Regions from separate parts of the Homo sapiens genome. Here region 2 is linked to region 1. The links come from fine-mapping of genetic effects on gene expression. A gene starts in region 1. The other region holds a variant in brackets. All regions are shown on one strand. Distances are from middle to middle.

Evidence for each region. PIP is the estimated chance that this variant, and not a neighbour inherited with it, causes the effect.
Region 2: its variant is the best candidate, but not a certain one, in a credible set for the expression of TSPAN6 in ovary (GTEx, PIP 0.82).

The regions. Positions count from the first base shown.
Region 1 is chrX:100,633,566-100,638,947 of GRCh38, reverse strand. It overlaps TSPAN6 (tetraspanin 6), which reads left to right and starts at 2,142. Exons shown (of 8, transcript NM_003270.4): 1 at 2,142-2,340; 2 at 3,202-3,390; 3 at 3,696-3,770; 4 at 4,919-5,017. The coding sequence starts at 2,254. RefSeq lists enhancers at 1,947-2,562, 2,563-3,178.
Region 2 is chrX:100,674,712-100,680,093 of GRCh38, reverse strand. It overlaps SRPX2 (sushi repeat containing protein X-linked 2), which reads right to left. Exons shown (of 11, transcript NM_014467.3): 11 at 4,306-5,382. It overlaps SYTL4 (synaptotagmin like 4), which reads left to right. Exons shown (of 20, transcript NM_001370165.1): 18 at 682-781; 19 at 1,495-1,703; 20 at 3,918-5,382. The coding sequence ends at 4,066. Among named protein-coding and RNA genes, the nearest start is that of SRPX2, 33 kb to the right of the region's middle. The variant C/A (reference allele first, on the strand shown) is at 2,571.

The sequences.
Region 1 (5,382 bases):
GTGCATACGAGGTAATGTGTATCAAGCTCTTAGCAATAGTGGTTGGTATACAGTCAATACTTATTATCACAGTCATTATTAATACTTTAAAGAATACATTTATCTAGTGGCCTAGGGAAATACTTCTTAAATTGCCTTAAACGGGATTAGATGCCCCTTTGGTCTGGGTTTGTACCCAAACCCAGGCCTAGGTTTGAACTAAATTGAATTTCTCGGTTTGGTGGCATTGTGGGGGTGGGGAGATGGAAGTGGGTGTAGCAGAGTAGGAGGCAATGGTGCAAGGTGTTGTAGCCATAGGAATATGAATTTCCATGTCAGCATTTGGTTTAATTTGGCACCGAGTGTTATTCAAACAAAGCAGCGTTGTGAGTGGTAGAGGAAGGGAGAGGAGGAAAGTCAACACATTCTTGGAAATAAGATGTGGCTTTTGCTTTGCTATTTTGTTTTTTCTTCAGCTACAGACATATTTCTTTGCTCTTGGGCTCACACTGTAAATCCCTTTCAGTACATATCTAAGTTTCAGAGAAACTTCTCTTTAAGATGACAAGAAGTTATCAAGACTTCCCTTGATCCTTGTTTTTAGTATAAGAACCCTTCAGTTGGGGTCATTTAGCCTAGGGAGAAATCTTTGCATATACTTAGACACCCCCCTCCACCATGTTGAATATTTGGTATTTCCTAACGACTTTACCTCAAAGTGTTTGAAGGTGTATGTAGATGTATCGTTTATCCATTCTCTCCATGTATTTGTGTATTAGGCCTTTCAAATTTTAGTAAAAATTTTAGTATAAAGCCTGGCAATGCAATAATTAATTTTCCAACAGTTGCTGCCTTGCACCTCAGACGTCTGGCAAGATGTTATAGGAACTGGTCCTAGGTCAATATTCGAAGCACAGGGAAGCTCTGTGTGACCAAGTCAATGGAACTTTCCTGTGTTCTGGTCCTGAGGTGTATGTTTAAAGCAACGTTTCAAGCAGAAAAGTTTGAGTATTCATCTCTCCTCCACAAATGCAGGTCTTTTTGCAATGGCAATAGAGTAAATAGCCACTTGTGATATTAAGCTTGTGTCAATGATGAAGGGTTGGATTGCATAGGGAACTGATACAGCCTTCTAACCCCGTTCCTCTAGAGATAACACAAACTCACTTAACACTCAGTCTCTGCCTTCAAAGAGCTGACGCTTTAGTTGAGAAATCAGACCTTAACGCACCTCCTGTGTTGTAACAACATAGACCAATATATTCACAATATATAACATTAGGTTTTAATCTCTCTGTAATCAGCTGGGTTTTGATGGGAAAAACCAGGTGGCTGGAATGTACAGTGCCTTTCTGTTTTAACATTTAAGAGGAGGTCACACTCACCAGGGATTTTTCCATTGCACTCTCTCTTTTTAAAAGTTTACAGCGAATAGCTGAACTTACATTTCACTATTATGTAAAAATACTTTCCCTCAACTTTCCAATTACTTAGGGGATAAAAAAGGAGAGGAATACTGGGGTTTTGCAAAGTCCTGCAGGTAAATTCTAAAGTCATTATTATCTTTAATACCTAGCTTAGAAATTCTTTCAACAAGTGGTGATTATTTTCCTCCATTCACATCTCCCCTTCCTAACCCATAAAACAATGTTCACAAATTGAAAAGCACACAAGTGAGAAAAAAATCAGCCTAATTCCACCAGAGGTAAATTTCACTGTTCCTTTCAGTTTTTGTCTAAGCACACGTGACTGTATGTATTGCTTTGCAATCCGCTTTCTTTTTGCAAATATATTTCTTGTGGGTATTTTCCCATGTATTTTCTTAGGTCGCTTTTAACCTCTTCATTCTTTTCCTTCTCTCTAGGGCACCAGGGGCCAGGGAGGCCCAATCTCAGAGCGCTGCGGGCTCTGCTGGTGATAGAAACAATATGGTGAAGTTATAAGGAGAGGGGAGGGGTGGGGGGCGGGAAAGATTCCTTAGGATAGAAAAAAAACAATGAAGAAAGCTCCACTTGAAGACCTATGAAATTTCCGACACTAGAACCTTTGTATATAGTTTTCGGTAACCTTCGGCAGGGGGCGCTCTGAAATTGTTGCCACTTTCCGGACAGCCTCCCATACTTTACCCTCTACAAAATTGTACAGTGTTTCCGGCCCTTCTCAGTTGTGGACGCTCGTAAGTTTTCGGCAGTTTCCGGGGAGACTCGGGGACTCCGCGTCTCGCTCTCTGTGTTCCAATCGCCCGGTGCGGTGGTGCAGGGTCTCGGGCTAGTCATGGCGTCCCCGTCTCGGAGACTGCAGACTAAACCAGTCATTACTTGTTTCAAGAGCGTTCTGCTAATCTACACTTTTATTTTCTGGGTGAGAGACGAAGGCGCCTGGGGCCGGCAGGGGATCCCGGGCTTTTAGTTGTGGGGGGTGTGACCCTGAGCGGCGGGAGCTCAGGTCGGGAACGGTGTGGGGTTTGGGCGGCCATCGCGCCTGGGACCCCGACGCCGGCGACCAGTGACTGGGCCCCGAACAAAGAGCTCAGGCATCTCGCCGGCGCTGGGGTCGGAGTGCGGGACGAAGGCAGCCGAGAGGCTGAGCTGGGACCCAGACGTACCAGCGTTCGAGTTCGATACGGGAGGCGAGGTGGGGCCTTAAGCCCCCAGAGCACGCAGACGGTGACCCTGGACCTTTGCAAAGGCAAGCAAGGCTTGCCCGGCCCCTTTGAGGGCTCACTTGCATAATAGTGTCTTTCTTTTCACTGCTTCGTAAGAGAGGAGTGTTTCGCAGGTAAGTATGGTATGCCTCCACTCCCGCCAGTCTATCCTTGGGCTTGCTTTTGTGTACCAGTCCTTTGTACCCTGTGCCCATCCCTACCTGGAGAGGACGGGGGAAGTTTCTGGAACTCATAAAATCACGTTTTTTTTTTCCCCTTCAAGGTTTTCTTCCTAAGGTTGGAGTAAGATAGTTAAGGAAGTTTTGATCCCTAGGGCAAATATGCCATGGGCTTGTGTTTACACACAAAAAGATGAATTTTAAGAATTTTGATAAGATACCTGGTCCACAGCCTGCTCTTGTGTGCAGATCCCCCCCTAACCCCTTCTACTCTTCCCCCTTGTCTGCCGTATCCCAGCATATTACACCTATTGTGCCTTAAATACCTCATGCGTTGTGATTTGAAGATGCTGCTGTACACAGTGCGTAACTGTTTGTATTCTCTGAATTCCCACATAGATCACTGGCGTTATCCTTCTTGCAGTTGGCATTTGGGGCAAGGTGAGCCTGGAGAATTACTTTTCTCTTTTAAATGAGAAGGCCACCAATGTCCCCTTCGTGCTCATTGCTACTGGTACCGTCATTATTCTTTTGGGCACCTTTGGTTGTTTTGCTACCTGCCGAGCTTCTGCATGGATGCTAAAACTGGTGAGTCCTTGTTTTCATTAGAATTGATTCTTGGTTTTAGAAAAGTTTTGTATGTTATAGAATTCCTTTGTTGGAACTGGCCATGGCCCTTTACAATTTTTCCTGTTCCTTATGGAAACTTATCAAGTAACAGTTCAGCTGCCAGTTTCCACTTTCAAAATAGACATGTTGTTATTTTCCCTGCCCTTTTCAATGAAAACATGATGAACTAATTGAGAAGACGACCATTATTTTTTCTTTGACTCCCTTTGCAGTTGTGCTATATCTTATTTATGCTGACTTGGACTTTCTTTCTTATCCTGCAGTATGCAATGTTTCTGACTCTCGTTTTTTTGGTCGAACTGGTCGCTGCCATCGTAGGATTTGTTTTCAGACATGAGGTAAGCCTGAATTAGGGAAGCTTAGCATGTTACATTTATCCTCTGAGAGATAAAAATGGATTTATTAAAGTAGAAGAGTCAGACCTCTGTATTTAAACCTGTAGCTGACAATAATGGCCTTCTTGTAAAAATTCTGGTCCACTTCTAATTTAAAAGAAAATTTAGAAAATTGTAAAGACTGATAGTCACCAGAAGAAAATTACTTACTTATATTCCCTGTCGTTTTTCTGTGTATAAATACCTATTAAAACGGAGATAGTACAATTTATAACTTTGCTGATAGGAAAATATTCAAAGCACAAAATTGATAACCTTCTTATGCCTTGCATTTTGAAAAGATTGGATATACTTAATGCAAATCATCAGAAGTTTAATATTGGGCCGGGCGCGTTGGCTCACGCCTGTAATCCCAGCACTTTGGGAGGCCGAGGCAGGTGGATCACGAGGTCAGGGGATCGAGACCACCCTGGCTAACACGGTGAAACTGTCTCTACTAAAAATACAAAAAAAAACAAAAAATTAGCCGGGCGTGGTGGTAGGTGCCTGTAGTCCCAGCTGCTCGGGAGGCTGAGGCAGGAGAATGGCATGAACCCGGGAGATGGAGCTTGCAGTGAGCCGAGATCGCGCCACTGCACTGCAGCCTGGGCAGCAGAGCGAGACTCCATCTCAAAAAAAAAAAGCTTAATACTGAATTAGAAAACAGGTAAACTTGGGGTTGTTCAAATAACATTCGGTGAGTAGCAAAGGCTCATTAATGAGAGTTCTCATAAAGTGGTAGCACAGCCTCCCAAAGTAAGGTTTTGTAGCTTACAAATTCCATAGGCATCGAATTTGAACTCAGTTTAAAGTGGAGAAAAATTAGCAGGGTGCAGAATACAGCAATACTGCATTGCCACTCAGATAAATACATATTCCCACAGCACTTTGAACTTGTAGTGGTTCTCATCATATATTTTAATGTTTTGCTTAGTAGTCCCCTCAGCTAACCTATACCCCTTAGAGGACAGGACTGTACCATGGAAGTTAATTACTATACATGTTGCTGCTGTCAAAGATATGACCATTGGTCAGATTCGAGAACTTATTTGACCTGAAACCAAAAACTTTCTAGAGGATTTTCTTACTGACATTGTGTTTCTTTGCTATAGATTAAGAACAGCTTTAAGAATAATTATGAGAAGGCTTTGAAGCAGTATAACTCTACAGGAGATTATAGAAGCCATGCAGTAGACAAGATCCAAAATACGGTAAGTGGTAACCACCACCTAGAGGGGAACACATTCCCTGTTGCCTCAGAGAAAAGAGCAGAGTCTGGCTACTAGATGTTATCCACCTGTAGGGGAAAGAAGTGTGACGTGTTTCATTTTCCTCACATGTGCACCTGTTCTCTTCCTTCCCCACTTACATCATAGTCCAGGTACAGTTAGTACCAACTATAGCAGGAAAGTAAGGCCAATACAAAACTGTCATGCATGGTGCTAATCAGGGACCCAGTGCTCATCTCTTGAATCAATTGAGGAGAGAGATCATTGAGATTAGTAAATGTTTTGAGCACAAATTGCAATAGAGGATATTAGGTTAAATGTTTGACTACAAAGTTGTAATATAAACT
Region 2 (5,382 bases), 41 kb before region 1:
TTCACTAGAAACTAGGCTGAGTGAATGGGCAAAGAAGTAGAGGTGGTAAGTGTGGACTTTTTTTCCTCAGGATAATTGATGGTGAAAGAAAGTAGAGACATGGAGAATAGCTTGAAGAAGAGATAAGGTTAAAGGGAGCTTTTCTTTTAGAAGTACTTTTTCAAAGAGATGAGATTAGTATATATTTAGACTGAGGGGAAGGGACAAGTGGAGAAAGAGATATTTAAATTGGGAGGTGAGGATTGAAATTGATGATGTCTGAAGAGTCCTGTGAAGTAGGGGTGGAATCGAGAACTCAGATGGAGGAGTTCCCTCTTTTTTAAATCATTGAACAAATATCAGGCAACTTTATGTCTCTAAGCCTCAATTTTCTCATGTACAAAATGAGGACAAAAATAGTGTGACTCTCCTAGGGTTGTTTTGAGAATTAAATGCTTAACATGGTATCTGGCACATAGCCAGTTTTCAATAGGCATTTATTAATATTGTGGTTGTTATTAATACAGCACCTATTGCTTACTGGCAGGCACTGTGCTAGGCACTGAGGAGACAGGACAGGCACGGTTCTGTTATGGAGCTCGCTGCCTTTAGGAGCAAGCAAAGAAAGTGCTGCATAAACAAAGCTCAAGATAAATCTAGAGGTGGAAGGGGCTCACTTGCTATGGCTGACATCCCTTACAGGTAAAGGTGGGGAAGGGGGAGAGCTCCAGGTGTGGATCAAAGAAGCCAAGAACTTGACGGCTGCCAAAGCAGGAGGGACTTCAGACAGCTTTGTCAAGGGGTGAGTCCCTAGACCAGCCCCAAATTAACCAGTTTCAGAACAAGAGAGCTAAGAGAAGAATTTAACTTTCTCTGTGGATATTATCCAGTGTGTCTTACCACTCCCGGCAACCAAATTTGTTCCTGAAATTAGGTAATGACAAAACCTTCACCACCTTTGCACTGGTCTGGGCTGTAGACTTGATAATCCAAAGAGGAGGGCTGCAGACAGGTTCTGACTTTTGTCTGACTCATGTTCTTAATTAATTCTGGGTGAAAATCTGTGTCTTCTGACTGTCTAGATTTGGGAACTCAGGGCTTTGTTTCCCACAGTTTTTAAGCTTTCCGAAAATTACAGATTACCTACTGACTTAATTTATCTAGAAATCATGTTTGGCTAAGTTTATAGATATTACTATTGGTTTTATTTAAAGAGATAAATTGTCTAGTAGAAACAAAGCCAAATATTTAAAACCCATTTTCAGTGGAGCACAGAATAGCCTCACTAATACTATTATATTCATTTTCTCTCTAGGTTAAAGGAATTGAATCAGGTGAATGATCTAGTAGAGGTAGTGGGAACTCTGCTTCAGCAGATTCAAGGAGGGGCGTGTGTAGTAGGATCTGGATGTGGGTTCATCTTCTTGGGCTAGGCCTGTGGTAGGGGAAAGGGGAATTTAGAGAGATAACTGTCCGCTTTGAGTAGGCTGTTGATTACTCCCCGCCCTCTGCCAGATACCTCCTTCCCATGAGGAACAAGGCCAGTAAACGTAAAACTCCTGTGATGAAGAAGACCCTGAATCCTCACTACAACCATACATTTGTCTACAATGGTGTGAGGCTGGAAGATCTACAGCATATGTGCCTGGAACTGACTGTGTGGGACCGGGAGCCCCTGGCCAGCAATGACTTCCTGGGAGGGGTCAGGCTGGGTGTTGGCACTGGTGAGATCCCCTCCCCCATCCTCACTTGTTTGAAGGCTTCTTGTCTATTTTACTCCTATTACCATTCCCGCCCCCCAACACAAAGCTCCTCTGTGATGACAGTTGTCTTCTTTCCTTTCAGTTAACATTCAGCCAATACTTATTGAGTGCCTACTATGTGCCAGGACTAGGGGAAGGCTGAGCTCATGCACTGATATGTGCACAGATAAATGTGACCCTGATTGCCAGGAACTTCATAATCTTCCCACCAAAAAAATCTACAAACCTACCTATATGTATGTACCTATACATTCCATCTTCCATGCTGTTAATAATGAAAGAAGGGTCATTGCTAGCAAAAGCCAAGCTCTCTCCAAGTGCTCTGGGCCACCTCCCCCTACCCTTCTCGATGACCTCACTTCTATAATCGTCATCTCTCAGTTTCATCCTCCCTACCTACCAGGGGTGAATACAGATATGCTCTGGTATTTCCAATCTTATGAAACAAAAACAAACCTTTCCTTGACTACACGTTCCCCTTCTAGTTTCTTAGAAAGAATTGTCTCCACTTCTCACCTCTCCTTCAGCTCTCCTTCACTGTGATCTGGCTTTTGTCCCACCACTCTGCTGAGCAGTTGCTCTTGCCAAAGTGTTGTTCTCATCTCACTAGAATTTTCAGCACTATTTAACATGCTAGATCACTCCTTTTCGCTTGAAACGCTGAACTTCTATTGACACTGCATTCTGATTCCCTTTTAAGTCACTGCTCACCCCTTCTCAGTTTTCTTTGTAGGTGCTGCATTCTATACCCAAACTCTAAATGTTGGTGCTTGGCAGAGCTTAGTCTCGGATCCTCTTCTTTGCCCTCTCCCTAGTCTCTGCACTTGT[C/A]TATTAATATACTTATATATTAATAATCACACAGAATATTTAACATGAAGCATATAGACTGATGTTTTTACACATGTAAGCCAATTCATGTCAGTCCCCTGTTAAAACCCCTCAGTGGCTTTCTGTTGTGCTTAGAAAACAATCCAAAGTTCTTAACATGCCTACAGGCCCCTGTGTAACCTGGGTCCTCTGTTCCTTTCTGATCCGTCTTGTATCACTCTTCCCCTTGCTCACTATGCTTCAACCAAAATGACTTTCTGCTCTCCAAATATACCAAGCTCATTCCCACTTCAGAACCTTTGCAATTATTGTTTTCTCTGAATGGAAAGTCTGGTTCTTTCTTATCCTTCAGGTCTTGGCTCAAATGTCACCTTCTCAGAGAGTCCTCAGACCACTCCATCTGCACAGTAGTTCCTGAGTCAGTCACTATACATCACCCTGTTTATTTACATCATAATGTTAACCTCACTGTCTGAAATACTCTTATTGGTTTGCTTGTATATTTTCTGTCTTCCCTATTCAAATGAAAGTTGCCTGAGGACAGAGACTTTTTCTGCTTTGTTTACTAGTGTCTCTAGAGCCTAGAAGAGTACCTGGCACACAGTAGGCACTCAATAAATGTTTGCTGAATTAATGGATGAATATATAAGAGAATATGAATGGGGCCACATACGATCCTCACTTCTGACCTGGAGTCTGCAGCTAGAGGAGAGGTGTTTAGCTTTAAAAGAAAAAAGTTGGCCGGGCACGGTGGCTCACACCTGTAATCCCAGCACTTTGGGAGGCTGAGGCAGGCAGATCACGAGGTCAAGAGATCGAGACCATCCTAGCCAACATGGTGAAACCCCGTCTCTACTAAAAATACAAAAAAATTAGCTGGGCGTGGTGGCGCAGGCCTGTAGTCCCAGGTACTCTGGAGGCTGAGGCGGGAGAATCGCTTGAACCCAGGAAGCAGAAGTTGCAGTGAGCCAAGATTGTGCCACTGCACTCCAGCCTGGCGACAGAGCGAGGCTCCGTCTCAAATTAATAATAATAATAAAAGAAAAATGTTTAAGTACAGTTGGCAATAGCTCTGGCATGAGTTGTCAGGCACTAGAACTCTGTAACAGCCTCAGAATAAGAAGTCTCTAGTGACTGTGTGCCATTTGGAGTCTGATTTCATCAACCCAGAGTCTCTTGACAGAGTCTCAGGAATACAGGTGAGGGAGCACTTCCCAGACTGCTGTGGCCATTAGCCCATCTTCGTAGGAAACTGTTATGGGGTGGCTAATCTTGCTGTACAACCCATCTTCCCTGGTGGGCTGAGAGTGGGGCCCCTCTTTAGCCTCTTCTGGTGTTTCTCCTCAGGGATCAGTAATGGGGAAGTGGTGGACTGGATGGACTCGACTGGGGAAGAAGTGAGCCTGTGGCAGAAGATGCGACAGTACCCAGGGTCTTGGGCAGAAGGGACTCTGCAGCTCCGTTCCTCAATGGCCAAGCAGAAGCTGGGTTTATGAGTCCCTGTCCTCTTCTGCAGGTCCAGCCCTGGCGAGGGCAGGTCAGAGGAAGTGAAGAAATCAAGAGCAAAGATTTATAATTTAATGTGTATGTGTGTATGTGTGTATGTGTGTGTGTGTGTGTGTGTGTGTATGTGTACAAACATGTATTTTCTGCAAATCTCATTATGCTGGCTAGAGTGATGCAGACTTGTTCTTCTTTTTAAAGCAGTCTCAAGAATAAGCATTTCTTTAAAATGTTTCTGTGTATAATCTAGTTTATTTTCAGAGTCCATTTTTTCTTATGTCTTTATAAGGTTCACTTAACTTAAAAACAGCTTTTAAAACAACTTTTTATCTTCTGTCTTGCTATCATTGTTCCTACTTCCCTAGGAAGCCCTGGCTACCTTTCGCATTAGGACCAGTCTGGGTTTTAAGGCTCTGGGAAGCAGGGTTGGTTAGTAAAGACAGGAATGTTGGGGAGAGGTGAGTAGTTCCTTCCTCTTTCTCCTCTCCAATTTATGCTTTTAACTTATTTTCTACCTGGATAAACTTCTGGAACTTGGCTTTTAAATTTAACTTTTCTAGTTTTTAAGCAGTTTCCACCTTGCTTTGGTCTAATGCTTTTCTTTGAAATGCTAACAGAATTCCCAAGCTTTTTCCAGTTCTAGATATCTTTACTAGACCTTTGGGGGACTCTTATAATGGAGCTGCTTTTGAAAAGCACTTTAATTAGATAATGTATTTTGACTAAATCACGAGGATGCCCAGTGAGAGCTTCTAGCTGATCTCAGAGGACCAGAGTGACTGAGGGTAAAGTGTCTCACAGCCCATGCTGAATTTTCTGCATTTTAAACTGATACTGCAGTCATTGGAGAGAGAGCTCCTCATTTCTCGAATGAAAGATGAGATATATTCATCCTCATGTACCACATCTGTCTTAGTGTTTGCGTCTGGGGTGTGTTATCAAACAGAGCATGGTCTACATCCCACTGTGTCAACCAGAAGAGCCAAGTGTTATCTCAATTGGCCCAGTGTTTCTCCAGGCTGGGGACTGTTAAGGGCTCTAAGGGAATGTAGACAGAGTCTCCCTGTTATTCTGACTTCCTGCTTGATGAGCTTTCAGTTCCTGTTTTTGCTATTGTTTCCTAAATTTGACCTACATATTACATGGGTGTAGTGTGTTGAGGCTTTTCAAAGAAGGGTCTAGTGAGCTAAGTTTCATCTTCTGGTACTCATTGATCAAACTGACCTTTCTATTCTCATAAGCGTTTCTACCCAAAGTTGTGTGTGGAAGGAGTGTATAGCAGAGAGGAAATCCCTTTCAACAGAGTCAG